4 linked regions of the Homo sapiens genome follow. The protein of the gene in region 1 purifies or fractionates together with the protein of each later gene. This does not show direct contact. Each region holds a gene or a part of one and is shown in the gene's direction. Other genes may lie near its edges. The genes, in order: ANAPC7, ANAPC16, CDC27 and ANAPC2.

The links.
Region 2: the proteins of ANAPC7 (region 1) and ANAPC16 purify together in Homo sapiens (affinity purification with mass spectrometry; 6 studies listed by BioGRID and IntAct, with this or other methods). This does not show direct contact.
Region 3: the proteins of ANAPC7 (region 1) and CDC27 purify together in Homo sapiens (affinity purification with western blotting; 23 studies listed by BioGRID and IntAct, with this or other methods). This does not show direct contact.
Region 4: the proteins of ANAPC7 (region 1) and ANAPC2 fractionate together in Homo sapiens (co-fractionation; 6 studies listed by BioGRID and IntAct, with this or other methods). This does not show direct contact.

Annotation. Positions count from the first base shown.
Region 1 is NC_000012.12:110,379,707-110,386,727, reverse strand, and holds part of ANAPC7 (anaphase-promoting complex subunit 7), read left to right. Parts: intron 1-258; coding exon 259-401; intron 402-3,767; coding exon 3,768-3,885; intron 3,886-4,779; coding exon 4,780-4,976; intron 4,977-7,021. UniProt on the Homo sapiens protein: Component of the anaphase promoting complex/cyclosome (APC/C), a cell cycle-regulated E3 ubiquitin ligase that controls progression through mitosis and the G1 phase of the cell cycle.
Region 2 is NC_000010.11:72,225,995-72,233,015, forward strand, and holds part of ANAPC16 (anaphase-promoting complex subunit 16), read left to right. Parts: intron 1-4,371; coding exon 4,372-4,446; intron 4,447-7,006; coding exon 7,007-7,021. UniProt on the Homo sapiens protein: Component of the anaphase promoting complex/cyclosome (APC/C), a cell cycle-regulated E3 ubiquitin ligase that controls progression through mitosis and the G1 phase of the cell cycle.
Region 3 is NC_000017.11:47,186,290-47,194,138, reverse strand, and holds the start of CDC27 (cell division cycle protein 27 homolog), read left to right. Parts: upstream 1-4,843; 5' UTR 4,844-4,966; coding exon 4,967-4,993; intron 4,994-5,256; exon of another isoform or gene 5,257-5,393; intron 5,394-7,849. UniProt on the Homo sapiens protein: Component of the anaphase promoting complex/cyclosome (APC/C), a cell cycle-regulated E3 ubiquitin ligase that controls progression through mitosis and the G1 phase of the cell cycle.
Region 4 is NC_000009.12:137,185,553-137,192,709, reverse strand, and holds the start of ANAPC2 (anaphase-promoting complex subunit 2), read left to right. Parts: upstream 1-4,149; 5' UTR 4,150-4,177; coding exon 4,178-4,294; intron 4,295-4,606; coding exon 4,607-5,229; intron 5,230-6,353; coding exon 6,354-6,486; intron 6,487-7,157. Other genes in the region: TPRN (taperin), read left to right, coding at 19-259, 345-451, 536-598; microtubule nucleation factor SSNA1, read right to left, coding at 2,796-2,903, 3,445-3,644, 3,932-3,983. UniProt on the Homo sapiens protein: Together with the RING-H2 protein ANAPC11, constitutes the catalytic component of the anaphase promoting complex/cyclosome (APC/C), a cell cycle-regulated E3 ubiquitin ligase that controls progression through mitosis and the G1 phase of the cell cycle.

The DNA of each region.
Region 1 (7,021 bases):
TGTAGCGTATGTTGTGTTCTGAAGAACTGCAACCACAGAGTTATTTGTTGGTACTGAGAGACTTCTGCTTTATTCTTTGTTTTTGCTATCCTGTCCTATATAACTTTTTTTAAAGTCATAAGCTTAAAGTTTTTTATTACGAAGAATTTTATATTTATGCAAAAGAAAATAGTATCTGTATGACCAATCATCCAGATTCAGCAACTAAGAGGATTTATAATAGATTTAAAGGTTCAATGTTTAATAAATATCTTAAAGTTCACTAGAGAAAAAATCCTTATTGCGAGATAACGTGGACCTATTGGGAAGCTTGGCAGATCTGTACTTCAGAGCTGGAGACAATAAAAACTCTGTCCTCAAGTTTGAACAGGCACAGATGTTGGATCCTTATCTGATAAAAGGTAAGTAATTCTTGGGGCAGGAAGACAGTGGCTGTTGTTGGGGGGGATCAGAGATAATAGGGAGAATATGCAGCATTAATACTCGATACCAAGTTTCATAGAAATGGTGTATAAAACTTATACTAGTCTTTTACTTTTTTTAGGTCATGACACATGTCTCTAACGCTTAGGTAATACCATTTGAGCAGCTGTTTTTGCTTGAATTCAAGTGTCTTCTCCCCACAGATCATTATTTGGCTTTTTTTCTTTTGAGGGGGTCATAGCTCCTCCTTATGACTTATAAATTTATGGTGTGCCTGACTGAGAATTTGGATGGCATCCCTAAAACCATAATATCCTTTTAGGGAATTTTGTTTTGCCATGTCCTTAGTATAATTAAAAAGGAATAAGAAAGGGATAAGGTGATTAAAGGCAGTAATTAGGCGTGAACAACAGAAAAATCACTGATCTTGAAAAAGATTGCAGGTGAAGGGTAATCTTCACAGGGACCTCCAACAGATGGCAGTTAGGACACTGGCAGTGAGTTCTCAGGAATAGTGGGAAATAAGGTCAGATAGATATGCTGTCTATTTGTAAAGGTCCAAAAAAGGCCATCAGAAAAACAGGGCCTTGTGACAATAAACAGTCTTATGAGCTCTTAAGCCAGGGGAATGATGGAGCTGGGAAGGGGCCATCCCAAGCGTTTAGATGAGGAAGCAGATCTAGAAGGATGGATTTGTTTGCACAAGATCTCCCCTCACCTCAAGTGCTTATTCCTCTTCTCCAAGCTGCCTGCACCCATGATGAAAATGATGTTTTAGAAATACTAGTCTGGCAACAGCTGGCAGCTTGGAATGGCAATGGCAGCTTGGAATCTCAGACCCAGGCCCAGGGGCTAGCAGGAGCATTGCAGTAATCTTGGCTTGAGAGGAATTTTCATGGGAATCTGAAGGGATAGCAAGGGATGGAAGAGAATGGTGGCAAGAGATGGGTAACAGTGAGCATAGGTCCCTTTTTATAGAATGTGGGTGAGAATAAAGCGGGGGCTGCGGAGAGGCAGTGATTTTTTATTTGTTTGTTTGAGACGGAGTTTCACTCTTGTCGCCCAGGCAGGAGTGCAGTGGCACAATCTCTGCTCACTGCAACCTCCGCCTCCTGGTTAAAGTGACTCTCCCACCTCAGCCTCCCGAGTAGCTGGGATTATAGGCGCCCGCCACCACACCCAACTAATTTTTGTATTTTTTTAGAAGAGACGGGGGTTTCACCATGTTAGCCAGGCTGGTCTGCAACTCCTGACCTTAGGTAATCCACCCGCCTCAGTCTCCCTAAGTGTTGGGATTACAGGCCTGAGCCACTGCACCCAGCCCGAGGCAGTGATCTTTAATGAACTGCATTCTGGATAGAACTACAAGCTTTTTTCTGGAATAGGCCAACTTTTTCTGAGACTGATTGGCTTTTCAGCAGTGTATTTCTGATGGTCTAGAACTCTGGGAAGAGAGACCTTAGTTGATGCCTTTTTTGGGCCTTTTCTGGTTGGGTTAGGGTAGCTGTGTATCACACCACAGGATAGAAGGACAAGCACTTCCTGAAAATAGCAGGCTTTCAAATTGTGAGGTAGGTTGTTCTGCTCCTTTGGTTTTTTGTTTTTTTTGTTTTTTTTTGTTTTTTTTTTGTGAGACAGAGTCTCACAGGCTGGAGTGCAGTGGTGCAATCTCGGCTCACTGCAACCTCCACCTCCTGGTTTAAGCAATTTTCTGCCTCAGCCTCTTGAGTAGCTGGGATTACAGGTGTGTGCCACCACGCCTGGCTAGTTTTTGTATTTTTAGTAGAGATGGGGTTTCACTATCTTGGCCAGGCTGGTCTTGAATTTCCACCTCGGCCTCCCAAAGTGCTGGGATTATAGGCATGAGTCACCGTGCCCGGCCTCCTTTGGTTTTGGTTTTGGTTTTGTTGTTAGAGACAGGGTCTCACTCTGTCACTCAGGCGGGAGTGGCACAAACATAGCTCACTGCAGCCTTGACCTCCTGGGCTCAAGCAATCCTCCTGCCTTAGCCCCCTGAGTAGCTGGGACCACAGGCATGTGCCACTGTGCTTGGCTAATTTTTTTTTCTTTCTATTTTATTTTACTTTATTTTATTTTATGTTTTAGACATAGTCTTACTCTGTTGCCCAGGCTGGAGTGCAGTGGTGCAATCTCGGCTCACTGCAACATCCGCCCTCTGAGTTCAAGCAATTCTCCTGCCTCAGCCTCCCGAGTAGCTGGTATTACAGGCGCCTGCCACTGTGCCTGGCTAATTTTTTGTATTTTTAGTAGAGACGGGGTTTCACCATCTTGGCCAGGCTGGTCTTGAACTCCTGACCTCGTGATCCACCTGCCTCAGCCTCCCAAAGTGCTGGGATTACAGGCATGAGCCACCGCGCCTGGCCCTTCTTTTTTCTTTTTTTTTTCTTTTTTTTTTTTTTTTTTTTTTTGAGACGGAGTCTCGCTCTGTAGCCAAGGCTAGAGTGCAGTGGCACGATCTTGGCTCACTGCAACCTCCGCCTCCCTGATTCAAGCGATTCTCCTGCCTCAGCCTCCTGAGTAGCTGGGATTACAGGCACACGCCACCATGCCCAGCTAATTTTTGTATTTTTAGTAGAGATGGGGTTTCACCTGTTAGCCTAGTCTCGAACTCCTGACCTCGTGATCTGCCCTCCTTGGCCTCCCAAAGTGCTGGGTTTACAGGCATGAACCACTGCACCTGGCCACTTGGCTGATATTTTAAAATTTCTTTAGAGACAGGGTCTCACCATATTGCCCAGGCTGGTCTTGAACTCCTGGGCCCAGGTGATCCTCCTGCCTCTGCCACCCAGAGTGCCAGGATTACAGGTGTGAGCCACCACGCCCAGCTGGGTTTTGCATTTTCTTTTTTTGAGACAGAGTCTCAGTCTGTCACCCAGGCAGTGCAGTGGCGTGATCTCGGCTCACTGCAACCTCTGTCTCCCTGGTTCAAGTGATCCTCCTGCCTCAGCCTCCCAAGTAGCTGGGATTACAGGCGCGTGCCACTATGCCCGGCTAATTTTTTGTATTTTCAGTAGAGATGAGGTTTCACCGTGTTAGCCAGGATGGTCTCGATCTCCTGACCTCGTGATCCACCTGCCTCGGCTTCTTAAAGTGCTGGAATTACAGGTGTGAGCCACTGTGCCCAACCTGGGTTTTGCATTTTAATAGTCACTTTGTAGGAAACTGGAAATAGTAGTTGGAGGAGCCTGTGATGGTGGAAAGGGCTTAGCCCCTGCAGGAGCTGGGGCCTCAGCATGGGGTCTGATGTTGGGTGCTACTCCTGTATGTGGGACCCCTGCTTCTCTTCTTAAAACACCTCTTCTCACTATGTCCTTCTCTTCTAGGAATGGATGTATATGGCTACCTACTGGCACGAGAAGGGCGGCTAGAGGATGTTGAGAACCTTGGATGCCGCCTTTTCAATATCTCTGATCAGCATGCAGAACCGTGGGTGGTTTCTGGGTATGATTATGCATTCTCTTTTCTCCCCAGTTGTCAGTAGATTAAGAGATAATGGTTGCTCTTGAAGAGAATATAAATTGAAAGCACAGGTTTAAGAGGTAATCACCTGGACAGGCATGGTGGCTCATGCCTGTAATCTCAACACTTTGGGAGACTGAGACAGGTGGATTGCTTGAACCCAGGAGGCAGAGGTTGCAGTGAGCCAAGATCGTGCCACTGCACTCCAGGTGGGCGGCAGAGTGAGATTTTGTCTCAAAAATAAATAAATAAAAATAAAAAGAGGTAATTACTTGAGGCCAGAAATTTGAGACCAGCATGGGCAATGTAGCAAGACCCTGTCTCTATAAATATATATATATATATATATATATATATATATATTTTTTTTTTTTTTTTTTTTTAAAAGGATAATCAGCCCTGGATTCAAATAATAGTTTATGACTCTGGATGCATTATTTACCTATCTAGGTCTGTATTCTCATTTGGAAAATGGGCTAATAACCTCTCCTTCTAGGGTTAAGCATTAACTGAGTTGGTGAATGCATTGTGCTTAGTACTGAGCCATCAGTGATGGGGCCAGAAGATGCTCCTTTGTTTATTAACCTGGCTTTACAAATTCTCTGAATGCCTCTCTGCTAATAACTAATATCCAGATCATAGGTTCTTTTTCATAATTTTTCTCTTCCATATCAAGATTTCCCCTTAAAAATAAATAGTGGATTTTTTGGTTTGTTTTGCTTTTCTACTAATATCTTAGGTTAAAACTATAAGTGTGGTTTGGAATAAGGATTATGTTCAGGGCCTTCAATATGATTTTTGGATCAACTTTCTTTGTAGTCTTCTCTTGGATAACTTCTGGGGTTTTTGTGTTTTTTTTTTTTTTTTTTTCTCCAGCTGTCACAGCTTCTATAGCAAACGCTACTCCCGGGCCCTCTATTTAGGAGCCAAGGCCATTCAGCTGAACAGTAATAGTGTTCAAGCTCTGCTACTTAAGGGAGCAGCACTTAGGAACATGGGCAGAGTCCAAGAAGCAATAATCCACTTTCGGGAGGCCATACGGCTCGCACCTTGTCGCTTAGATTGTTATGAAGGTAAGAAAGAAAACATAGGTGAATGGTGTGAATCCGTGGGTGTGGCAGCAGCCCTCAGATGGAAGGTTTCATTAGGCCAGCACTTCCCAAACTCTGTTAGAATAATCTGGGGAAGCTGGCCGGACGTGGTGGCTCACACCTGTAATCTCAGCACTTTGGGAGGCCGAGACGGGCAGATCATGAGGTCAAGAGATTGAGACCATCCTGGCCAACGTGGTGAAACCCCGTCTCTACTAAAAATACAAAAATTAGCTGGGCATGGTGGCTCACACCTGTAGTCCCAGCTACTTGGGAGGCTGAAGCAGGATAATCACTTGAACCTGGGAGGCGGAGGTTGCAGTGAGCCAAGATTGCGCCACTGCACTCCAGCCTGGCGACAGAGCAAGACTCCATCTATTAAAACAACAACAACAACAACAAAAAAACATCATCCGGGGAAGCTTTTCAATATCCTGACGTTGGGTCTCTCCAGTGTAGATGGAAATACATGGAATTGGGAATAGACATCGATATTTTTGGAGGTCCCCAGGGGTTACCAATGTGCAGACAGGTTTGGGAACCACTGCATTAGGCATTTTACATTTATTTAGGGCTTTCACTGGATTTGTCACCCCATACTTTCATAATCCATTTTTTCTGATTTTTTTTCTGGTTTTTGGTGAGGGTATAGTTGGGATGGGGTTTTTTTTTTTTGTCCTCCCACCGCTCGCCCCCATCCAGTGTGGCGTACTCATTAATATGAATCTCTCTGTGTCAGACACCATGCAAGATCACTTAGTTTGCCTATTTTTTTTCTCTTACTCCTCTTTTTTTTGAGACAGAGTCTCGCTTTGTTGCCCAGGCTGGAGTGCAGTGGCATGATCTCGGCTCACTGCAGGCTCCACCTCCCGGGTTAATGCCATTCTCCTGCCTCAGCCTCCCCAGTAGCTAGGATTACACCTGGCTAATTTTTTGTATTTTTAGTAGAGACAGTGTTTCACCGTGCTAGCCAGGATGGTCTCAATCTTCTGACCTCGTGATCCGCCCGCCTCGGCCTCCCAAAGTGCTAGGATTACAGGCGTGAGCCACCGTGCCCGGGTCCTGTTTTTTTTTTTTTTTTTTGAGACAGAGTCTCGCCCTGTCACCCAGGCTGGAGTGCAGTGGCATGATCTTGGCTCATTGCAACCTCCACCTTCCGGGTTCAAACCATTCTCCTGCCTCAGCCTCCCAAGTAGCTGGGATTATAGGCGCCCACCACCACACCCAGCTAATTTTTGTATTTTTTAGTGAGATGGAGTTTCACCATGTTGGCCAGGCTGGTCTCGAACTCCTGACCTCGTGAGCTGCCTGCCTTGGCCTCCCAAAGTTCTGGGATTACAGGCATGAGCCACCACAACCGGCCTATTTTTTTTATTTTTATTTGAGATAGAGTCTCACTCTGTCACCCAGGCTGGAGTGCAGTGGTGCAATCTCAGCTCACTGCAACCTCCACTTGCCGGGTTTAAGTGATTCTCCTGCTTCAGCCTCCTGAGTAGCTGGGATTACAGGCATACACCACCACACCCAGCTCATTTTTGTATTTTTAGTAGAGATGGGGTTTCGCCATGTTAGCCAGGCTGGTCCCGAACTCCTGGGCTTAAGTGATCTGCCCAATTCAGCCTCCTAAAGTGCTGGGATTACAGACGTGAACCACTGTACATGGCCTGTTAGGCCTATTCTTTTTCGTGGCCATCTTACCTTGGGCCAGAGTTAGTACTCGTGGGATAACTCCACATCCATATGATAGTGTTGGCTGTGGGAATGGGTCTGTTCATTGTGACCTCCAGAGTGGGCACAATCAGGGTCCAACTTTGTTTTGTTATGTAATATTTTAAGTTCATGTGAATTGACCCTGGGAGTTCAAAGGAGCTGTGCCAGTTTCAGCAACGTTTGGTGACTCAGTCACAGACATTAAAATAGATCTTACAAGATGCAGTTCCTCCAAAACATATTTTTATAAGCATTTAAAAATAAACCTAGGAGTCTAGGAGTGATTTGCTCTTAACAGGAAGATGAGTTCAAATTTG
Region 2 (7,021 bases), on another chromosome or scaffold:
TCTTTTTTCCTTTAAGTGTTGCAATTTTTTTTTTTTTTTGAGACAGAGTCTCGCTCTGTTGCCCAGGCTGTAGTGCAGTGGCTCGATCTTGGCTCACTACAACCTCTGCCTCCCGGGTTCAAGTGATTCTCCTGCCCCAGCCTCCCAAGCAGCTGGGATTACAGGTGCCCACCACCACACCTGGCTAATTTTTTTAATATTTTTAATAGAGGCAGGGTTTCGCCATGTTGCCCAGGCTGAGCTTGAACTCCTGACCTCAAATGATCTGCCCACCTCAGCCTCCCAAAGTGCTATGATTACAGGCATGAACCACCGCACCTGGCCTTAATATTTCAAATTTACACAACTATATTTTAAAACTAATCTAGGAATATCTGTGAGAAAGATACAAACTATAGGCCAGGCATAGTGACTCACACCTGTAATCCCAGCACTTTGGGAGGCTGAGGCAGGCAGATTGCTTGAACCCAGGAGTTTGAGACCAGCCTGGGCAACATGACGAAATCCTGTCTCTAGAAAAAATAGAAAATTAGCTGGGTGTGGTGGCACGTGGCTGTAGTCCCAGCTACTTAGGAAGGTGAGGTGGGAGGTTCACCTGAGCCTGGGAGGTGGAGGCTGCAGTGAGCTGTGATCGCATCACTGCATTCGAGCCTGGGTGATGGAGACCTTGTCTCAAAAAAAAAAAAAGAAAAGAAAAGATACAAACTATAGTTGGCCTTGGGGGTGATGAATAATCAGAAATAATAAAAAGAGTTACGGGTTAAGCCCAAAATCATTTGTGACAGGAAACCACGGGGGGACTCTGGGACCATAGAGCTCCCTAGGATTGGTTTGGGTTATGACTAGTGGTGAGGTAGATGACCAGGTAGCATATGTAATTAGTGATACATGTACTTCTCTCTTTGCCTTTTTATTTTCTTTAATTGTGTTAACTAAATACTCAAGTTAGTATCACTGAGTCTGGTTAGAAGTAGTGAACAATTGGGGCCCTGTTACCATATTTGGTGCTAAAACTATATTATGACTTCATTTATATGCAGCAAAGACCTAGTATTAAGGAAGTTTCCCACAAAACAAATCAAAAATGGGAGACACTTAAATTGCTTAATGAGTTTTATAGCAGCAGAAGAATCCATATTCAACAATGGAGCTCTAAGATTAAAGTCATTTAAATTCTAGCTATAAGAGGAATTTAATACAGGAGGTACCTCCACAGTCTCAAAGCTATCAGCATTCTTTGTCAGTATACATCAAATTATGTGGAGATATTGAAGAAGAAAGGCTTCTGAGATTAGTCTGAATGTTGATGTTCTAACGAGTTATAGATCTATCCATTTTTATTCCATCTCAATATGCTTCATGGAGAAATGTGTTGTGTTTCTGTTGTAGGATACATTTATATTAAGTATAAATACACAGTGCACAGTTTTGATTGTGTTTCTTACATTTCAAGTTTTACCAATAATCTTAAATCTTAAAAAGATTAAGATAATCTTTAAAAATCTAAAATCTTAAGAATATAAAGAGTATTACACTTAAAGACTGAAAAATAATGTAGAGATGGCAACCCCTAAACCCATTTAATATTCTTGGTCAAATCAAGAATATTAAATTGAGAAGAGTACTCTGAAATGTAAGGATGTTGGATTTGGAAGCATTTTCTACCATGTTTATAGGTGATACTATTCTATTATACAATAAATCTAACACACATGTACCTGACCAATAATAGTTTAATAGAATATGAAAATAGAGGCCGGGCACGGTGCCTCACGCCTGTAATCCCAGCACTTTGGGAGGCCGAGGTGGGCGGATCACCTGAGGTCAGGAGTTCGAGACCAGCCTGACCAATATGGTGAAACCCCACCTCTACTAAAAATACAAAAAAAAAAAAAAAAAGGCATCGTGGTGTGTGCCTATAGTCCCAGCTACTCAGGAGGCTGAGAGAATTGCTTGAACCCAGGAGGCGGAGGTTGCAGTGAGCCGAGATCATGCCACTGCCCCCCAGCCTGGGCGACAGAGCGAGACTTGGTTTAAAAAAAAAAAAAAAGGATATGAAAATAGAGCAGGAAGGGTTGCCTGTCAAGAGTAAGGAACAAAAGCAGTTAGGAATCAAGGATGGATGCTGTTTTTAATCTCAAAAGGTTCAACTTGATGTTACATCCTTGTGAGTCTAGGATAGTAAACCCAAATCACCTGTAGTTAACCTTGTGAATTAACTTTTTTGTGCCTCTGCTCTCTGATAACAGACACCTCACATAAGCAGCATACAGCAGTTTGCAGCATTCTCCTGCCCTTGGCCAAAATTGTCCTCACCCAGTTATTACTGAGCACATTAGAAACTGCCTTCCAGCCCATCAGTGGCTGTATTTTAGAGACATTGTAGCCACTGAAGTATAAATTATCTGGCATTGTCTAATTGCCTACTGTGAGGTAATATTCTTTTTAATGTATTTGTTACCATCCTTATTTATTGGAGTTGGCTATGGTGTTAGATTTGGGTAATTTACTAAACTTTTCCCTGTTTATGACCTGTGCTTGTCCCTGACAAGGAAAGCTGATGTATTGCTACCTGCTGTGTTACAAAGGGTTTGATTACAGTTTCTAAATGGAAGAGATTGCCCCCAGCTGACTCCGTTCTGGAGCAATTCCAGGCTTTAGACTGGTACTGATACCACATCTAATAGGATGTGGCTAAGAAGCAATTGGACTTGGACGTTAATAGGGAGCTGCAAATCAGCAAAAGTGTGTTCCACAGGCATATAGTGTGGTGGAGTGAAATGCAGAGGTTCCTTTTTGAAAGTTTAGCTTATATCCTTTTGCTTTGAAGTTCATTACCAAGGAAAATATGCAAATATCACAACTTAACTATTTTATCCTAATGGTGCCTGTGATTAAATGCAAGTGAGAGGTGGCACTTTCAGGAGCTTCCATATACATCTTGGCCTGATCCTTATAGCCTATAATTCCCACTGCCTTGTGTGTAATCCTAAAGTTCAGGATCAAACCATCTGGGAGGTAAACTCTAATTGTCTATGCTTTCCTCTTTCTAAAATAAAATATGAGTTATAATTGGACTTTTTAAGCAAGAATATGAATAGGATAATGACTGCTGACATTCAAACCCCTTTTTTTTTTGAGACTGAGTTTGAATTTACAGAATGTAACACTGTCTCTGAAGAATACAAAAAGTATACATCCCAATAATTATACTTTCATTTTTTTCTTTTTCTCTTTTTTTTTTTTTTTTGATCACTTTGAAGATGATATTGGAAGGATGCCCTCTTGGTTATATATTCAAGCTCTTTGGATACAGTATCTATAGTTGTTTTTTTTTTTAATTGGTTATTGTGACTTCTGAAATAAGGTTTCCTTTGTGTGAAACTCAGCATGAGGCCAGAATGTGTTAGTCCTGTCTGCTTGCCATGTAATACCTGGCCAACACAACAACCCATGATTGATGGGTGAATGCTTGAGGCCTAGTAGTGCTAACGTGAAGTACTGCCTGAAAAAGGACAGCTGTGTCCTCTCTCCCCGTTTGTTTTAGGATTTTCGCAATAAGGTACATCCCCCAAATGGTTTCTGCTACCTTTTTAAAAATCAAATGTTTCTACGTGAGCTGTAAATTTTTGAGAATATGTTTTGCTGTATCAGCCCTTGCCTGACAAGGAATAACATGAACTAGCTTATGTTTCATGATCATCTTCCAAGTGCTGTGGCAACTGAGTTGGCCACTTCTTGTTGGCAGTTCTTGGCACCAGTACAATTCTAGGTTCTGAACTTGCACCATACTCTTATCGTCATCCAAATTGCAGTGTTTTGGTTCAGTTGGAAAATCAAGGTTACAGTTTGCGTTCACAGAATGAAATTTCCCAGCAGTGTTCTGTGATTGTCAGAGTGATGTAATTTGATATATTAAAAATCAACAATTTTTTCCTCAGCTTTGTTTTTTAGACTGAAAATGATTTGGAGTTTTGGTGAACCTTTATATTTTGACACTACAGGAGCCAGCCACAAGGCCAAATGTGTCAGCTGCCAGTGTTTGCTTGACATACAGGAGAACATTAAGGAACTCTCAGGTTGGGAGGAGGGAAGTGTTGACCAGGACATCAGACGGAGGTTTCTTGTTTTTGTTTTTTTAAACACTATTTTTAAACTCTTAAGTAGAGGGACTATTTTAATATTCTAGGTATAGAATAAATAGCTTTTATAACAGTCTTAGTTCTAAATGAAGCAGAACCCGTCTTTGTAAACACTGAGAACTAGACCCTGAATGTACAAGCAGGGAAAAGAATAGACAAGTTTACTTGGTTTATCAGAAGCCATAAAACCTTTAGAGCAGATTAAAACCTTTTCTCCTTTTGTTTGTAGATGGCTCTGAGAGATTCCTCTGCGAATCTGTTTTTAGCTATCAAGTGGCATCCACGCTTAAACAGGTGAAACATGGTAAGCACATGAGTGTTGCGTACTTGACTGTGAGAATAAATTTGCTAGGGGGTGGATGAGGCTGTGACAAAAATCCCCAAACTCAGCAAGGCTATTTTAGTGGACTTCCTAAATTAAAGAACATTCTAGGTCTTAATCTAGTCATAATGTCCACATTGAGGCTTAAGGTTGGGGCCGAGTGCAGTGGCTCACGTTTGTAATCCCAGCACTTTGGGAGGCTGAGGCGGGTGGATCACTTGAGGTCAGGAGTTTGAGACCAGCCTGGCCAACATGGTGAAACTGCATCTCTACAAAGAAAAAATTAGTCAGGCATGGTGGCGCATACCTGTAGTCCCAGCTACTTGGGAGGCTGAGGTGGGAAGATCACTTGAGCCCGGGAGGTTGAGGCTGCAATGAGCCGGAATCACAGCACTGCACTCTAGCCTGTGCAACAGAGACCCTGTCTGAAAAACAAAAAAAGTTGGTCCTCCAGGGAGTCAGTGCTTCCTGCTCCTCTTGTGTTACTTTTTCCTCTCCTGTCTGAAACCTCCTTTTACTGTTGTCCTCCACTGGTTACCATCATCATCTTCAAGTATTTGTACGATACCTCCTGGTCTGTCTATACTCTAACATCCTGATAACACTTTTTCTGTTACATTAGGCCTCACCAGGCCTTCATTTCTGCATCAACAAACTGTGTTCCCCCTCCAGACCATTTCTCCATTGAAACTTTATGTAGGGGGAAAAGCTGTAATTGCCTCTAACCCTAGGATTTTAGTCCACAAATCACTATGGCATAGAGGATGAGTACTTTTTTTAGGAACAGAGCACATCCAGGCCGGGTGCAGTAGCTCATGCCTCTAATCCCAGCACGTTGGGAGGCTGAAGCAGGAAGACTGCTTGAGCCCAGGAGTTCAAGACTGACCTGGGCAACATGGTGAAACCCCATATCTAAAAAAAGAAAATACAAAAATTAGTGGAGAATGGTGGTGCATGCCTGTGGTCCCAGCTACGTGGGAGGCTGAGTTGGGACGATCGCTTCAGCCCAGGAGGCATACTCCAGCCTTGGTGACAGAGTGAGACCCTGTCTCTGGAAAAAAATAGGGCACATCCTGAAAATGTGATCATTTTATTTTAAAATGACTTTTATTTTTTGAGACGGAGTCTCTCACTGTCACCCGGGCTGGAGTGCAATGGCATGATCGCGGCTCACTGCAACCTTTGCCTCCTGGGTTCAAGTGATTCTCCTTCCTCAGCCTCACAAATAGCTGGGACTACAGGTGCACGCCACCACGCCCAGCTAATTTTTGTATTTTTAGTAGAGATGGGGTTTCACCATGTTGGCCAGGATGGTCTTGATCTCTTGACCTTGTGATCCGCCTGCCTTGGCATCCCAAAGTGCTTGGATTACAGGCATGAGCCACTGCGCCCAGCCTTTCTTCTTTTAACATTAGAAGAAACTTCCAACTTAAAAAAAAAAAAATAGGCCGGGCACGGTGGCTCATGCCTATAATCCCAACAATTTGGGAGGCTGACACGGGCGGATCACCTGAGGTCGGGAGTTCGAGACTGGCCTGACCAACATGGAGAAACCCCATCTCTACTAAAAATACAAAATTAGCCAGGCATGGTGGCATATGCCTGTAATTCCAGCTACTCGGGAGGCTGAGGCAGCAGAATCGCTTGGACCCAGGAGACAGAGGTTGCAGTGAGCTGAGATCACACCATTGCACTCCAGCCTGGGCAATAAGGGTGAAACTCTGTCTCAAAAAAAAAAAAAAAAAAAAAAAAAAATTAAGCTTCTGACCAGCATAGAATAAGACCCCATTATGAGAATTTTGAGGGTCGGGCACAGTGGCTCACGTCTGTAATCCCAGCACTTTGGGAGGCTGAGGCAGGCAGATCACCTGAGGTCAGGAGTTCGAGACTAGCCTGGCCAACATGGTGAAACCCCATCTCTACAAAAATAAAAAACTTAGCTGGGCACGATGGCGGGTGCCTGTAGTCCCAGCTACTCAGGAGGCTGAGGCGGGAGAATCACTTGAACCCACGAGGCAGAGGTTTCAGTGAGCCGAGATCGCGCCATTGCACTGCAGCCTGGGCAACAAAGCAAGACTCCATTCCCCACCCCCACCCCACCCCCCAAAAAAAGAGAGAGAATCTTGAGGAGAAAAAAAAATCCATCTAGAAATTTTTTTTTTTTGAGACGGATTCTCACTCTGTCACCAGGCTGGAATGCAGTGGCACGATCTCGGCTCACTGCAACCTCTGCCTCCAGGGTTCAAGCGATTCTCCTGCCTCAGCCTCCCGAGTAGCTGGGACTACAGGCGCATGCCACCACGTCCAGCTAATTTTTTTTGTATTTTTATAGAGATGGGGTTTCACCATATTGGCCAGGATGGTCTCGATCTCTTGACCTCGTGATCCGCCCGCCTCGGCCTCCCAAAGTGCTGGGATTATAGGCGTGATCCACCACACCCGGCCTAGAAATTATTTTTATACCAGTCATCATCTTGGTGGCTGGTGGCAGTCTCTTGGGTAATACGTTGTTGCATAATATTCTTTCCTTGACTCCTTACAGATCAGCAAGTTGCTC
Region 3 (7,849 bases), on another chromosome or scaffold:
GCCTGGAGCTCTAAAAAGTAGTCTGGCTGGAGATACAAATTTTTCAAACCATTTGTAGATGAGAAACTGGGGCCACAAGAATGGATAGGGGCGGGGTATGGTGGCTTACGCCTGTAATCCCAGCACTTTGGGAGGCCAAGGTGGGTGGATCACCTAAGGTCAGGAGACCAGCCTGGCCAACATGGCGAAACCCCATCTCTACTAAAAATGCAAAAATTAGCCTGGCATGGTGGCGTGTGCCTGTGGTCCCAGCTACTCGGGAGGCTGAGGCAGGAGAATCGCTTGAACCTGGGAGGTGGAGGTTGCAGCGGGCTGAGATCACACCACTGCACTCCAGCCTGGGTGACAGAGTGAGACTCTGTCTCAAAAGAAAGGAAAGAGAAAGAAAAAGGAAGAAAGAAAGAAAGGAAGGAAGGAAGGAAGGAAAGAAAGAAAGAAAGGATAGTTTTGCCTAAGAAGAATGTGTAGGGTGGGTGAGAAGAAGGCCTAGAACAGGTCCTTGAAGCATGCTTAATATTAAAGGGGCTGGCAGAGGAGCTGCAAAGGAAACCGATTAAAAAACAGAGCAGTAGGCCAGGCGCAGTGGCTCATGCCTGTAATCCCAGCATTTTGGAAGGCTGAGGCAGGCAGATCACTTGAGGTCAAGAGTTCGAGACCAGCCCAGCCAACATGGCGAAACTCCGTCTCTACTGAAAATACAAAAATTAGCTGGGTGTGGTGGCGCACACCTGTAAATTCAGCTACTCAGGGGGCTGAGGCAGGAGAATCGCTTGAACCCAGGAGACGGAGGCTGCAGTGAGCCGAGATAGCGCCATTGCACTCCAGCCTGGGTGACAGAGCGAGACTCTCTCAAACAAACAAACAAACAAAAACAGAGCAGTAGGAGGAAAGCTAGGAGATGGTGTCATTAGAGAAGCCAAAAGAAGAGGATGATTTGACCAAAGAGTAAACATGGTGAGGGTGGGGTGGGGGTGGTGGGGTGCAAGGTCAGGTAAGGAGGCCATAAAACCGCACGCAACAGGGACAAAATGAAGGGTACAGACAAGGAGGACTGAAAGACTTCAGGAGAGTACACTTACTCTGGGCTATGTTTCAGTGGGACCTACATTTTGCTACTGATATCACGTCTAGCTTTTTGAATAGTTCCCTAAATGCCAGCCTCCAAATCTGACTGAATATGAAATAGACCAAGAAGCAGGCTTAGGAGAAAAAATAATTTTCCAATTCCATTTTTGGAATAATGCTGTTGTAACCCAACTCCACTCACTAGCCAAACATATTGGATAACGGATGACAGCAGGATGCCCAAGTGGTTGATGAATAGCGAGTTTAAGTAGGTCAATTAGGAGCAGAGAAGGAAGTAAAAACACTCCAAAATACCCCATCAAAGTACTTCAAACAATGTGGCTTTGCTGTGGATGAGTAGAAACCACAACAGATGTATTAGCCTGGTCAACAACAATCAGAAAGGAGATGCTTTTTTTTTTTTGAGACACAGTCTTGCACTGTCACCCAGGCTGGAGTGCAGTGGCCCGATCTCAGCTCACCGCAAGCTCCGCCTCCCAGATTCACGCCATTCTCCTGCCTCAGCCTCCCCAGCAGCTGGGGACCACAGGTGCCCACCACCACGCCCGGCCAATTTTTTGTATTTTTAGTAGAGATGGGGTTTCACTGTGTTAGCCAGGATGGTCTCGATCTCCTGACCTTGTGATCTGCCCGCCTTGGCCTCCTAAAGTGCTGGGATTACAGGCGTGAGCCAACGCGCCTGGCCTTTTTTTTTTTTTGAGACGGAGTTTTGCTCTTGTTGCCCAGGCTGGAGAACAATGGCGCAATCTCAGCTCACCGCAACCTCCACCTCCCAGGTTCAAGCGATTCTCCTGCCTCAGCCTCCCAAGTAGCTGGGATTACAGGCATGTGCCACCACGCCCAGCTAATTTGGTATTTTTAGTAGAGACAGGTTTTCTCCATGTTGGTCAGGCTGGTCTGGAACGCCTGACCTCAGGTGATCCGTCTGCATTGGCCTCCCAAAGTGTTGGGATTACAGGCGTGAGCCACCTCACCCAGCCAGGAAATGCTCTTTTTTAGGTTAAAAAAAGAAAAAAGGCTTTAGGCAAATTCTAAGCCTATAAGCCAGAGTGCCAAGCATCAGAGGCTCTTTAAATGCTGACTCTAGATCCATATTTTCACAAAGTATCATCTTTATGTATCCTCTGTGGTAAGGTCCTATATTTAGGTTTACAAAACTCTGCTGCACACATACAAGACTTGGGTTGGCAGCATGTTGTGTGAAAAAGAGCTGAGTCCGTAAATGACCACACAAGTTTAGCATGAGCAAACAGTGTCATGTGACTGCTAAAAAATGTAAATACAGGCTGGGCACAGTGGCTCACACCTGTAATCCCAGCACTTTGGGAGGCCGAGATGGGTGGATCATGAGATCAGGAGTTTGAGACCAGCCTGGCCAACATGGTGAAACCCCGTCTCTACTAAAAATACAAAAATTAACCGGGCGTGGTGGTGCGCACCTGCAATCCCAGCTACTCGGGACGTTGAGACAGGAGAATTGCTTGAACCCCGGAGGCGGAGGACGCAGTCAGCCGAGATTGCGCCATTACACTCCAGCTCTGGGCAACAGAGCAAGACTCAGTCTCGGAAAAAAAAAATGTAAATACAACTGTAGTCCACTTTAATAGACGTGTCCAGATAATAATAGTCCAACTGCATTCTGAATTATTCAGAATAAATCTGGAGTACTGTGTTCAGTTGAAAGGGTCACATTTTAAGAGTGATAGCTCTTACTTATCCCTTTCTTTCCATTCCCAATCTTAGATACTCTCATCTCATATCTAGCGTGGTAGATTGTTTCCAAAGATGACCCAAAAACTCCTCCCATGGCACACGCCCTTTGTGGTGTTACTTTGCCACTCTTCCCATTAAGAAGTAGACTATTCCTCCTGGTGAATCCAGGGTGGCTCTGAGTCTTACTCTGACCAACAAGAAGTGATGCTCACAGGCCTAGGCCTAAGGGACCTCACAGCTTCTATTTTTGCGCACTTTGTTGTCAACCACCAAGTCAAGAAGCTGGAGCTAAACTACTGACTCATAAGAGGCCAGTGTGAAAAGAGAGGTCATGCAGAGAAGAAATGAAGGACCCAGCCAATAGCTACCACTGACACCCTAGACATGTGAGTGAAGCCATCTTGAATCTTTCAGCCCTAGCCAAGCCAGTGCTGGTGATGTTCTTCTATATCTGTGTGACTGTCCAATATGGCAGTCACTAGCCACATACAGGGCTACTGAATCCTTGGAATGTGGCTAGGGCATCTGAAGAACTTCATTTTTAATTTCATTTTAACTTAAACTTTAAATAGCTAATGGCTACTTTCCAGGCCAGTGTAAAAGTCTGTTACCACTCAAGTCATCCAGCATAATCCCGCTAAAGCAACTGGGCACAGGGCAGCCAAAAATCATCTTAGCACCTGCCCTTTAGGGGCTATAAGTATATATACAGTGACAAGACAAGGCGGTGGAGAAGGATGCAGTGTAGCTCTGTCAGCCTTGTTTTTAAAAATGAAAGAAAAAATATCTCCCTCTAACATCACCCAAAGGGAAATTTCCAAGCAATGGAATATATCATGATTCTCACATCTAGCCTAGAGAGCTCCTGACTAGAAAAGTAACTTTCAAAAACTGTTTCCTCATCTGCTGAAAAACAAAATTTAAACAGTCCCCTGGTTCACTCTTTTTGGGGGGAGAAGGGGAGCAGAAAGGAAATATGAGAGAGTCTACATTGCATGCTAGACACGGCCACATTTATAATACATCGAATTCTCTTAATCCTTTTTTTTCAAACTAAGCGAACATAAGTTCAGAGAGGTAATTTGCCAAGGACCTATGACTAGTTAGTGCTAAAGATAAAATTCAAAACCAGGCCTCTGAATTTCCGACCCCCTACTCTTCCCACCACAGCGGAATGCCTCACCTATCAAAAATAAAAATTTCTAATGGCCTATTGAGCTTTTCCATGATCTCTTCACCTAAGTAACTATTTCCAATTAATGCCTTCTTAGCAGACTGATCCCATTTTTCCTCCCTTCACTTTCCTATACTTCTTTTTCCTCTAATTTTACCCATCCTTCAAACTCCATTTTAAACTTTTTTTTCCTTCCATAGAACTTTCCTTATCTTATCACAATTGCCCTCTCTGAATTTTTATATTACTTATAATAGGCACCATATAATATAGCGTTCTCTGTTACACTGCTTTTCCCTTAAATAGACCTTAATCTCCTTGAAGACAGAAGCTATCCTATGTCTTTGGGGAGTGGCAATCTTTCCAAATTTCTTTAGCTTTCCCCCAGAGCCGTGAGTAGATACTTCTGGAATGGACGAATGATCTAAACTCAATAGACAAATACTTGTTGATTCATTAAAGACAGCCCCAAACTCTGCTGTTTCACCCTTTGCTTCATAATCTACAGCACACCAATTAATCCAAAAGGGCTGAGGGGCTAATCCACACTGCAGCCCCGCCACGTAACGCTACCCGCCCGCGCTGTCACGCCACGCCCAGCCTGCTGGTTGCAGATTTGGCGTAGCCCAACCCTGGGACGGCCGATTGGGCGTGGTGTGCGTGGCTGAAGGCGTGGCTGAGAAGAGAAACCTACGCTTTGGGTCAGACTCGGTAGCTTCCGGTAATCTTCGACAATTTCCGGCAACGGTTTTCTCTCTCGTCGACCAACCTCGGGTATTTCCGACTCCCTTCGGGCTTTTCCGTCTGGTTCCCGCTCGGCTTTCTCCACTTCGGGTATTCCCGTGTCCCGCTCGGAAGCACTCGGCAATCGCTCGGCCTCCCCCATCCCCCGGTAACGGTCGCTGGTGAGTTTAAATGAGCAGGGGCTGGCCGGGCCGGAGCCGCTACAGGGGGGGCCTGAGGCACTGCAGAAAGTGGGCCTGAGCCTCGAGGATGACGGTGCTGCAGGAACCCGTCCAGGTAATGATAACCTTCTTCTCTGGGGCTTGGCTGGCAGCCTCGGTCGGGAAGCAGCAGCGTAGGGCCACTCCGCGGCCTGGTGCGGCCTAGGCCCGGCTGCTTCTCCCGCCTCCCCTGCTGCCGTGTCCTGCCTATCTTTAGTCAGTTCGGAGGCCTTGCCCACAGCCTAAGCCGTGTTACCTCTGGCCCTACATTACTTCACCCTTAGCGTGAGCGGCTTCGGCGAAAATAACCGCCTTTCCCGTCCGAGCCAACGTCCGGCCAGCCTTTCCTGTCAGTCCAGGGGCCTGGCTTGACTGGGGGTGGGAGATGAGGGGCCGAAAATGCACCCCAAGCGCTCTCTTGCCTAAAAGATGATCGAGAAGCACATTTGATCGGAGCTTGTGTGATCTTCGTGACGGTAGGGCAAGTTTACGGAGGTTTTTTTTATTTTGTCTTGTATGAGAGGGTGGAGGGAGCGTAGGATCGGTCTTTTTAATACTAATTTCTATTTTGGTAACAGACTTCCTATCCCACGTTTCCTTTCTCGGTGAATTTCCCACCGGACAATGATGGTTTGAGAAGACAACTCCAAGCCTCAGTGCTGAGGCGCAAGCACCAATACCAGGGGAGGAGGTGGAAAGGGCACATTTGGGTTGTTTTCATCCTCTCTGATGGGGATCAGGAGCATTTTGTTGTGCATGTTTATAAGGCATTCAGGAAATGAAACACAAATAATGGTGTTTCTGTCCATTTCACTGCCTTTACACCAGGGTATGCTTTGACGCACAGTGCTGTGTTGCATTAAAGGAACCCTATTGGATTTTAAGTGTGTGATGCGGTGCCAAGTCATTTTCCCCCCTGACATCTGGAGAAACTGTATCTTTTGTGCCTTGGTAATGGACCAGGTCTGGGAGACTTCATCCCACTATATGATCTTTAACTTGATCAGAATTGACCTCTATCAACTGCTGTCATTGAGTCATGGACTTTATTTTGAAGTTATAAAGCAAACTGATTTTTAGAAATTCCTTCATATTGCCCTTAAAAGGCTTGAGGTATCAAACAGTAAATATTTTAATATATCACTACTTTCATATTTATTTCATTTTTCTAAACAGCATGAAATACTCATTTCTTCTAGTTTGGTTTTTTTCTCCAGCTGTTTACATATAGCAGCTATTAGTGTTTGAATTAATAAAACGTAAGATTATATCTTATGAAATTTACCTGTCTGTAAGTTGTATTAGTTTTTCTAGAGCTATTTCCATCCAAATTCTTTTTACCAGTATAGTTTCTTTTAAGATTTTTTTTTATTCTGGCTGTAGATGAGGTAATTATATATATATAATTTTTTAAGGCCTAACATGAACTTAAATAGATAAGCAGATTACTCAAGTTATTTAATTTCTGTTGCATATTCTTATAATTTTGTTTTAATAGTTAATGATTTTTTTTTTTTTGCCTTCTCTGGCCCCAGAAGTCTTCTAAAGTGATAAACTAGTTGCATTGATAGACTATAACCACCATTTAATAATAATTTCAGACTTTATAAAAGCATGGAAGGCCGGGCGTGGTGGCTTACACCTGAAATCCCAGCACTTTGGGAGGCTGAGGCGGGTGGATCACCTGAGGTCAGGAGTTCGAGACCTGCCTGGCCAACACAGTGAAACCCTGTCTCTACTAAAAATATAAAAAATTAGCCAGGCGTGGTGGTGGGCGCCTGTAATCCCAGCTACTTGGGAGGCTGAGGCAGGAGAATTGCCTGAACCCAGGAGATGGAGTTTGCAGTGAGCCGACATGGTCCCGCTGCACTCCAGCCTGGGCGACAGAGTGAGACTCCATCTCAAAATAAATAAATAAATAAAAAATAAAAGCATGGAAAAGAAAAGGAATATGTAGCCTGTTTCTAGATAGTACCCATCAGGTTTCCTGTTTGTCCTTAAAGTACTCTGAGCAGTAATACACTTTGATATTTTTAAGGCTTAAATGTCAAATTTGCTTCTTTTTCATAGCAGCATTGTCCATTAGATTTTTGAGATAGTGGTAGAAAGTTTTAGGATATGACTAGGTGAAAATTTTGGTTGTATAGTATAAGAAGCCATTCAAGAATGGATTTGGAACAGTGAGAAGAACAAGCAACTTTGGCTACAATGATAAAGATCAATGATCAGGGATAGTGCTGCAAATGGGAAAGAATTAGGAAGAGAATAAAAATAGGACAGATATATAAGATACTGTCTTTATTAAAAAAAAAACTATGATGACAGATTGCGTGTATTTGGAAAGCAATGAGAGTAAGTTGGAAAATTGTTCTTTCTTGGAATGCCTCAGAGTTGATGGTATTACTAGGCATAGGAAAAAGTTCACAGAAAATATGAAGAACTGTTTTCTGCATTTTTTTTTCTTTAAAGTTTTAATGTAGAATGGCCAGTCCGATATACCATATATGCCTAAATTAAAACTCCGTCTCAAATTACTACCTCTCAGAAGAGTATTACTTTATATTTGAGTCCTTACAAAAGTCTCACATATGAGGCAGAATTTCTGTCAGTTCTTTTATTTTTAATGGTAACTATTTGGAAAGACACACTAGCCTAAGTGACTTCAGTGAGAGCTTTTTGAATATTTATAAAAGTCACCTGGTGAAATTGGTTTTTAAAAAAGAAGCAAAGAGATTTTATATAGATTTAGCAATTATTCCTAGGGGTAAGACTTCACAGAAGTGTTGGATGAAGTTGTAAATAAGCCTTTCGAAAATTAATTTAATAAGCAATATAGCAATTGGGTACTATATACATGATACTGTTTTAGAGATCATTAGATGGTGAAGGAGTACTCTTGGCTGGGGATAAAATGTTCAGGGACAGCATCTAA
Region 4 (7,157 bases), on another chromosome or scaffold:
CGTGACTCTCACTCCCAGATGAAGATCTCCTTCAACGACAAAAGCCTGCAGACCACATTTGAGTACCCTTCCGAGAGCTCCCTAGAGCAGGAGGAAGAGGTGGACCAGCAGGAGGAGGAGGAGGAGGAGGAGGAGGAAGAGGAAGAGGAGGAAGAGGGATCCGGCTCAGAGGAGAAGCCCTTTGCACTCTTCCTGCCCCGGGCCACGTTTGTGAGCAGCGTGAGACCCGAGAGCTCTCGGCTGCCAGAGGGTAGCTCAGGTGAGTGCCCACCTGGGGGACAGGCAGCCTGGGAGGGGTGGAGCCTGGTCTGTGTCCACGTCTGCATGTGCACCTCCATTCACAGGCCTGTCCAGCTACACCCCGAAGCACTCTGTGGCCTTCAGCAAGTGGCAGGAGCAGGCGCTGGAGCAGGCCCCGAGGGAGGCAGAGCCCCCGCCCGTGGAGGCCATGGTGAGATGCGGGGGAGTGGAGCGCTGGGGGGAGTCTGACACCCGGGCGAGCCCATGTGTCCACATTCTGTCCTCTCACTTTCAGCTCACACCCGCCAGTCAGAATGACCTCTCGGACTTCCGCAGCGAGCCAGCCCTGTATTTCTGAGCCCAGCACTGCCAGGACCAAGGCTGAGCCCAGCTGTGGGAGTCCCGGAAGCTGGGCAGTAGCCAGGGACTACTGCACCCGCTTCTGCCTTGTTTGGCCTCACTGTATCCCACCCACCCCTCCTGGCCCTGGAAGCAGCTAGGGTGCCTCCTGCCATCGGGGCCAGGTCTGGGTCTCACTCCCCGGCCCTGATTTGGGAGGGTCCAAGGGGGAAGTGGGGTGGGGAACTGCCTGTGGGTGAGTGCCAGGGGCCTGCTGGGTGGTGGCCATCTGCGACCCGGCAGGGGGCTGTGCAGATTCTGCACCTGGCCATTCCCTGTCCTGTCTCCTCAGCCTGCCTCACAGTGGCCATGGGGTGTCGGGGTGAAGGGCTGTCCCAGCTACTTGTCCTCTGCAGGACCCTAAGCCCCTGCCCGCAGCCCACATGCCCTCTGTGATGAGTGGCGTCTTTCCTGCCTCTGATGATGGACTCAATAAACAGCACTGGACAAGGCTGCTGGTGTCCCCACTGCGTGGTCCTTGGCTGAGAAGGGAGCAGGGGGAGGTCTCTGCAGGAAGAGGCCACATGGGGTCCAGTGGGCCCCAGTTTGCACGTCTATGCCAGGGTGTGTGGGAGGTGACCCCGATCTGGTACCCCCACTCCTTGATGTCCCAGTGGCCAAGGCTCTGACCTCCCAACTTCCATGGCCTGTTAACCTGTTGCCCCTCCACCCCAGCCTCCCAGAGCTGGCACTGTGGGAGGTAGGATGACAGGCCTGCTGTCAGGGGCCTAGACTTCAGGTGGGAGGGTGAGAGTGTTGCAGCTGTTGGGCCTGAAGTGGCTTCTCTGAGGGGCCCAGAGCCTGGGGAGGGACCAAGGGAAGGGCAGCATGAGGGCAGCACAGGGGACGGTGTCTTCTGCTGGGCTTGGCGTGCCCCCCGACCCACAGGATGAGGCAGGCCGGGAGCAGCGCCTGCCTCAGACGGCCAGAGCTGGGGCTGTTTACAGCCCATGGAACCCAAGCACCATTTCCTCCCTGGAGGATCAAACCTAAGAGCAAAGAGATAAAGAGATGCTGTCTGGCCAAACTCCGGCGGAAGGAGAGTTTGGTGTATTTCCCTGGTCGGGTTAGGCCCAGCTCTTTTCTGGACCCTCTGGATCAACACATGCCTCCCAAATCGGCCCAGTCCTCGGGCCATGCTTGGTTGCTGCAGGGACAAAACAGAGGCCCCAGGGCACATGGAAGGATGGAAGTGGCCAGTGCTTGGTGTGCGGCCAGGGAAAGGTGGGCAGCAGGGCCTGGTGGCAGCAGTGGTGTCATCAGGCCAAGCAAAACTTGCAACTGAGGAACCGACGGGGGTGGGGGGTGTGAACTCCCCCCAGTCCTTGCTGAGAGGGACCTGAATCTGAGGCAGCTGCTGGATATGCTTGGCATCCCCAGCTGTCTCTCTGGGCTGGGTCCTATGCTGGCCACCAGGGTGTGGCAGAGAACAGGACGAGCAAGCAGAGCTCCTGAGAGGAGGGTGAGCCGTGGGCCAGTCAGGGGAAGAGGACCGGCGGCCCTGCTGGGGAGGGCTCAGGGTGGGGCTGGCCTGGGGAGGGTGGGCACCCTCAGCGGTGTCCCTGAGGCTAGTGGGGCAGTCACAGGGAGGCCACTCCAGACCCTCCTCCCTCCTCTCCCAAGGGGGAGCCTCAGGCTCTGGCTCTGCAGGTGTCTGGCAGCCCCATGCTGTTGATACGGGCAAGCAGCAGGCTGGCACGGATCTTTACAAAGATAATCTTTATTCATAATCACAGGCCACAGGGGTGAGACCTGAGGTTTGGGTTCTGTGGTGAAGGAGAACCCCTGTCCTCCTGTCCCTTGCCCTGGGCCTCTGCTGGCTGAGGAGGGACAAGGTGAGGGGGCCCCCATGGTGCTCAGACAACCAGAGCCTCCCTGGCAGGGCAGGAGTGTGGGTGCCACAGAGACAAGCCCCTTGCAGAGCTGACCTGGAGCCCACCATCCCCATAGCCTGTGTGAGCATGAAGCGAGGACCCCCGGGTGGGCTGTGCCCTGGGCTTGTCACTGATGCCAGTGGAGGCTGGCACCTGCCCCTCTCGGCACCTGAGACAGTGAGGGAAGGTAGCTGCTGCCGTGAAGAACAAAGATGCTCTGAGCACACACTTGCTGGGGCTGAGCTGAGGGGCACACGGAGGCAGGCCCTGCCCGTGGTCTGGTCAGCTGTCCCTGCCGCCGCTACTTTTCTGGTCTGGGGCTGTAGCCTTGGTCAGGTTCCCAGCTTCCCTCTTGAGAACGCTGAGCAAAGTCTGGGAGCTCTCCAGGATCTGGGGCCAGAGAAGTGAGAAGGTTGTTAATGTTCACCTGTTGGTAAGGTCCTAAGCCCCAGCTGTCCTCACACTCAGGTGCTGGGACCTGGCTGGGGGTGCTGTAGCCAAGGGATCCTGTGTGGGGGAAGGCGGAAGCCCAAGGGGACTGGCAGACGGGGTGGCAGGGCCCTCTTCCCTCCGGAATCTGACCCAAAACACTTCCTCTCCACCCTCAAAGCCAGGCTGGGTTAGCACTGGCCCGTGCTGGGTGCTCTGCCCAAGACCTGGCTCTTCACACTGAGCAGAAATAACCACATGGCTAGCGAGAACCGGATAAAGACCAGGACCCAGGATGCCCCAGGCCCCACAGACAGCCCCACAGTCACTCCCACAGCAGCCTGGGTTCCTCAATGGGCCTGGCCACGCTGCCCCTGCCCGAAATGCCAGCGAGGCACAGACTGCCCACAGCCGGGAGCCCCAGCCGGTCCTGACGCCTTGCCGTGGCAACACCCCTGCCGTGCCTATCCCCTGATGCTCGGCCTGGCCTCCCGAGCTCCACCTTGAGGTAGGCGGCCTCCGTCTCCGCGATGGTCCGGTCGAACTCGTTGCGAGAGGCAATCTTGCGTGCCAGGTTCTCGTTGACGCGGGCCAGCTTCTCTGTCAGCTGCCTCACCTCATTCTGCAGCCGCTGCTTCTCGTCCTCCTCCTCCTGGATCTGCCGGCACAGCTCCTCCCGCTTCTGGCACAGCTCCTCTATGCCTGGGGGCCGGGAGGGGCGGCGCTGTGGGCCCAGGGCAGGAGCGCGGCGGCGGAGGGCGGGCCTCCTTCCACCCGAGGAAGCCAGAGTCAGGCACCACCCCCGAGCGCCCGGCGCGGGGCCTGCGAGCCAGCGAGGGCTCGGGCCACGGACACCCGGCCTCCGGCACGGAGGGCTCTGCTCAGCCGCGCGATGCCCGCAGCGAGGCGGGTCCAGGGGCACCCCGCTGCGAGCCGGGAACCCGGCCCTGCGGCCCTCCCGACCTCCCCGTCCCGGCTGCGCCGCTCACACTTGACCAGCTCGTTGTTGTAGTTCTGCAGCGCCGCGCCCTGCTGGGTCATGGTCAACGCCGCCCGGGGCCCCACCACCCCAACCGCCGCGGAAGCAGCGCTGTCCGCGCCTGCGCACGACTCCCCCACGGCGCGCCGAACTAGCGCGTCATCGCTGAGCGCCTTGTGCGCGTCATGGCTGCGCGTGCAGACGTGCGTCATCGCCGCGCGCCGCGCCGAGCGAATCTCGGAGTCGGTGGGTGCAGATGGCGGCGGCAGTTGTGGTGGCGGAGGGGGACAGCGACTCCCGGCCCGGACAGGAGTTGTTAGTGGCCTGGAACACCGTGAGCACCGGCCTGGTGCCGCCGGCTGCGCTGGGGCTGGTGAGGCCTGGGAAGAGAGGGGCGGCCCCGCGCGGAGTTTCCGGGACCGTACGCGCTTTGGGGCCGCTACCCTCGGGTTCATACGGCTCTGTCCATCATCCGCCTCTGTCCTGTCCTGCCATTTTCCACCACCTTTCCGTTTCGTTTCGTTCAGCTCCGCTGACAGCCCTTCCATAGCTTCGGCCCAACGTCCGGGCAGCACGGACAGGGGGCAGCGGAGTTTTTGCAGCCTCCCCCTCAGCTTCTTCCCTTCCCCGCCTCTCCCCACCTCTATGTTGTGTTCCCCTCGCCTCACGGTTTTCTGCACCCCAGGTGTCTTCCCGGACCAGCGGTGCAGTCCCGCCAAAGGAAGAGGAGCTCCGGGCGGCGGTGGAGGTTCTGAGGGGCCACGGGCTACACTCGGTCCTGGAGGAGTGGTTCGTGGAGGTGCTGCAGAACGATCTGCAGGCCAACATCTCCCCTGAGTTCTGGAATGCCATCTCCCAATGCGAGAACTCTGCGGATGAGCCCCAGTGCCTTTTGCTACTCCTTGACGCTTTTGGCCTGCTGGAGAGCCGCCTGGATCCCTACCTGCGTAGCCTAGAGCTGCTGGAGAAATGGACTCGCCTGGGCTTGCTGATGGGCACTGGTGCTCAGGGGCTGCGAGAAGAAGTCCACACTATGTTGCGCGGAGTCTTGTTCTTTAGCACCCCCAGAACCTTCCAAGAGATGATCCAGCGTCTGTATGGGTGCTTCTTGAGAGTCTATATGCAGAGTAAGAGGAAGGGGGAAGGGGGCACAGACCCGGAACTGGAAGGGGAGCTGGACAGCCGGTATGCCCGTCGCCGGTACTACCGGCTCCTGCAGAGCCCGCTGTGTGCAGGGTGCAGCAGTGACAAGCAACAGTGCTGGTGTCGCCAGGCTCTGGAGCAGTTCCATCAGCTCAGCCAGGTCTTGTGAGTAGTCTGTCCCGATGGCCATGCCCTTGCTCCTTCTGGTTCCCCGCTGCTCCCCTGGGTCCAGCTGGCCTCAGCAGAAAGCTGGTGAGCCGTCCTGATAACCAGGAACATGACAGAGAGAGAGTCCCAGGGATTCCTGTGCAGCGTGTCCTGGACACAGGTGTCTCTCTTCTGTCACTCACCTTCAGTCCCACAGATTCATGCCTTGACCCTGGTAAGGCCCTATGTGGCTTGTGTCTGCAGCAGCAAATTTCTTAGCAACTCCAAACTTCCTGGACTCTGCAGAATTCCACTGTGCCTTTTGTCGATCCTGGGGAGGAATGATTCTCACCCTCGTCGACATTCCTTGCCCTGTAATTGTGAACAGAAGCTTGCTGCTGCTTCTCTCCAGGAAGATCAGGTCACTGTGAGGGCAAGCAGTCTCTTGTTAGTTTGGAGAGGAGAGGGGTTTGTTGTGAGAGACAGGTCCTGTTGTAGTTCTCTAGCAATTGTCATACCCTTGGCCATTTGTGGTGGTTTTGTCACATTGAACGGGGGTGTAGCCATGCAGCTACTTGAGAGGTCTTAGGTGGACTAAAGGTGGACTAAAGGAGTGCTCCTTTTGCTGGCAGGGGTCAGGGAGACCGTGAAGGGCTTCTGTTGGGCTCATCCCTGCAAAAGTTACACGGCAACTTTTCTCATCCTCCTCTTGAGTCCTTTTGTCACTGTAGACCAGAGACTGCACTGAAAGGCACAAACAGTGGCATCTGTACCTCTGCGGCCAGGGTAGCAGTGCAGTTGGTTGTCGTTTCAGAGTTGATCCTAGGAGATAAGGCTAGGGCCCCCGACAGCCACACCTGCTGCCACTGATCACATGGGGAAGGCCAGTGTCCCTACCTGGATAGAGGCCAGCTGGGCGGGGACAGCAGAGCCTGGGAGTGCTCTGTGCTCCCAGTGGCTTCTTGAAGCCTTTGGTACAACCGCCCCCCACAGCTGAGGATTGTGGGGAGGTGTGTGCTGGGTGTGTGTGTGTGTGTGTGCTGCATGCACTCTACAGGCAGGGCAGTCCTGGCATGGGGCTGTTCTGGGCTAGAGGGGCCGGTGTGTGCTCTGGGTGCCCCATGGCCAGGGCTCTCCTCTAGACACAGGCTCAGTCTGCTGGAGCGGGTCAGTGCCGAGGCTGTGACCACCACCCTGCACCAGGTGACCCGGGAGAGGATGGAGGACCGTTGCCGGGGCGAGTACGAGCGCTCCTTCCTGCGTGAGTTCCACAAGGTGAGGACCCCTCCCTTGGGCTGTGCCCCGCTGGAGACAGGGGAGTAGGTTTCTGGCAAACCTGACACCTGGCTTCAGAAGCATCCAGAGCACGGAGGCCTGGGTGGGCCCAGACCGGGTGGTGGCTGGAGCTGTCTTGATGTGGGGTAGAGACCAGTACTTCTGGGCCCTGGTGATAGCGAGGACGCATCTGAGGTGCGCTCTTCGGATCTGCGCAGAATCCCATGGCTGCAGGCGGTATCGGGCCAGGATCCCGAGGGGGCTACCTCAGGCAGGTGTGGCGAAGCTGGGCCCACCAGAGGAGCCACTGAATGGATCCCCTTCTCCTGTTTGCTGCCCTACTTGAGTGTGGACTCGCTTGGCCGGTCCCTAATGGACTGACCTACAGCCAGCCTGCACCACAGCGGGGAGCGAGACACCCTCACATGGGGCCTCCAGGCACCTGTGCTGTTGGGGTGTGGTCTGGGGCTCTGCTCTGGGCTCCCGGAGCCATAGGGGAGCTGGGCCCAGCCATGTGGGTCCCCCCATCCTGTTCCCATGTGTCACCTGTCCTTTCCTCAGTGTTTCAGAGTCCCCCTACTGAGGTGCAGATTGGCTGTGATGTTGGGTTTTCAAAGAGGGAGGGTGTCCCCAAAGCGGTGGGCAAGAGTGGGTAGTAGGGTGGAGAGGGT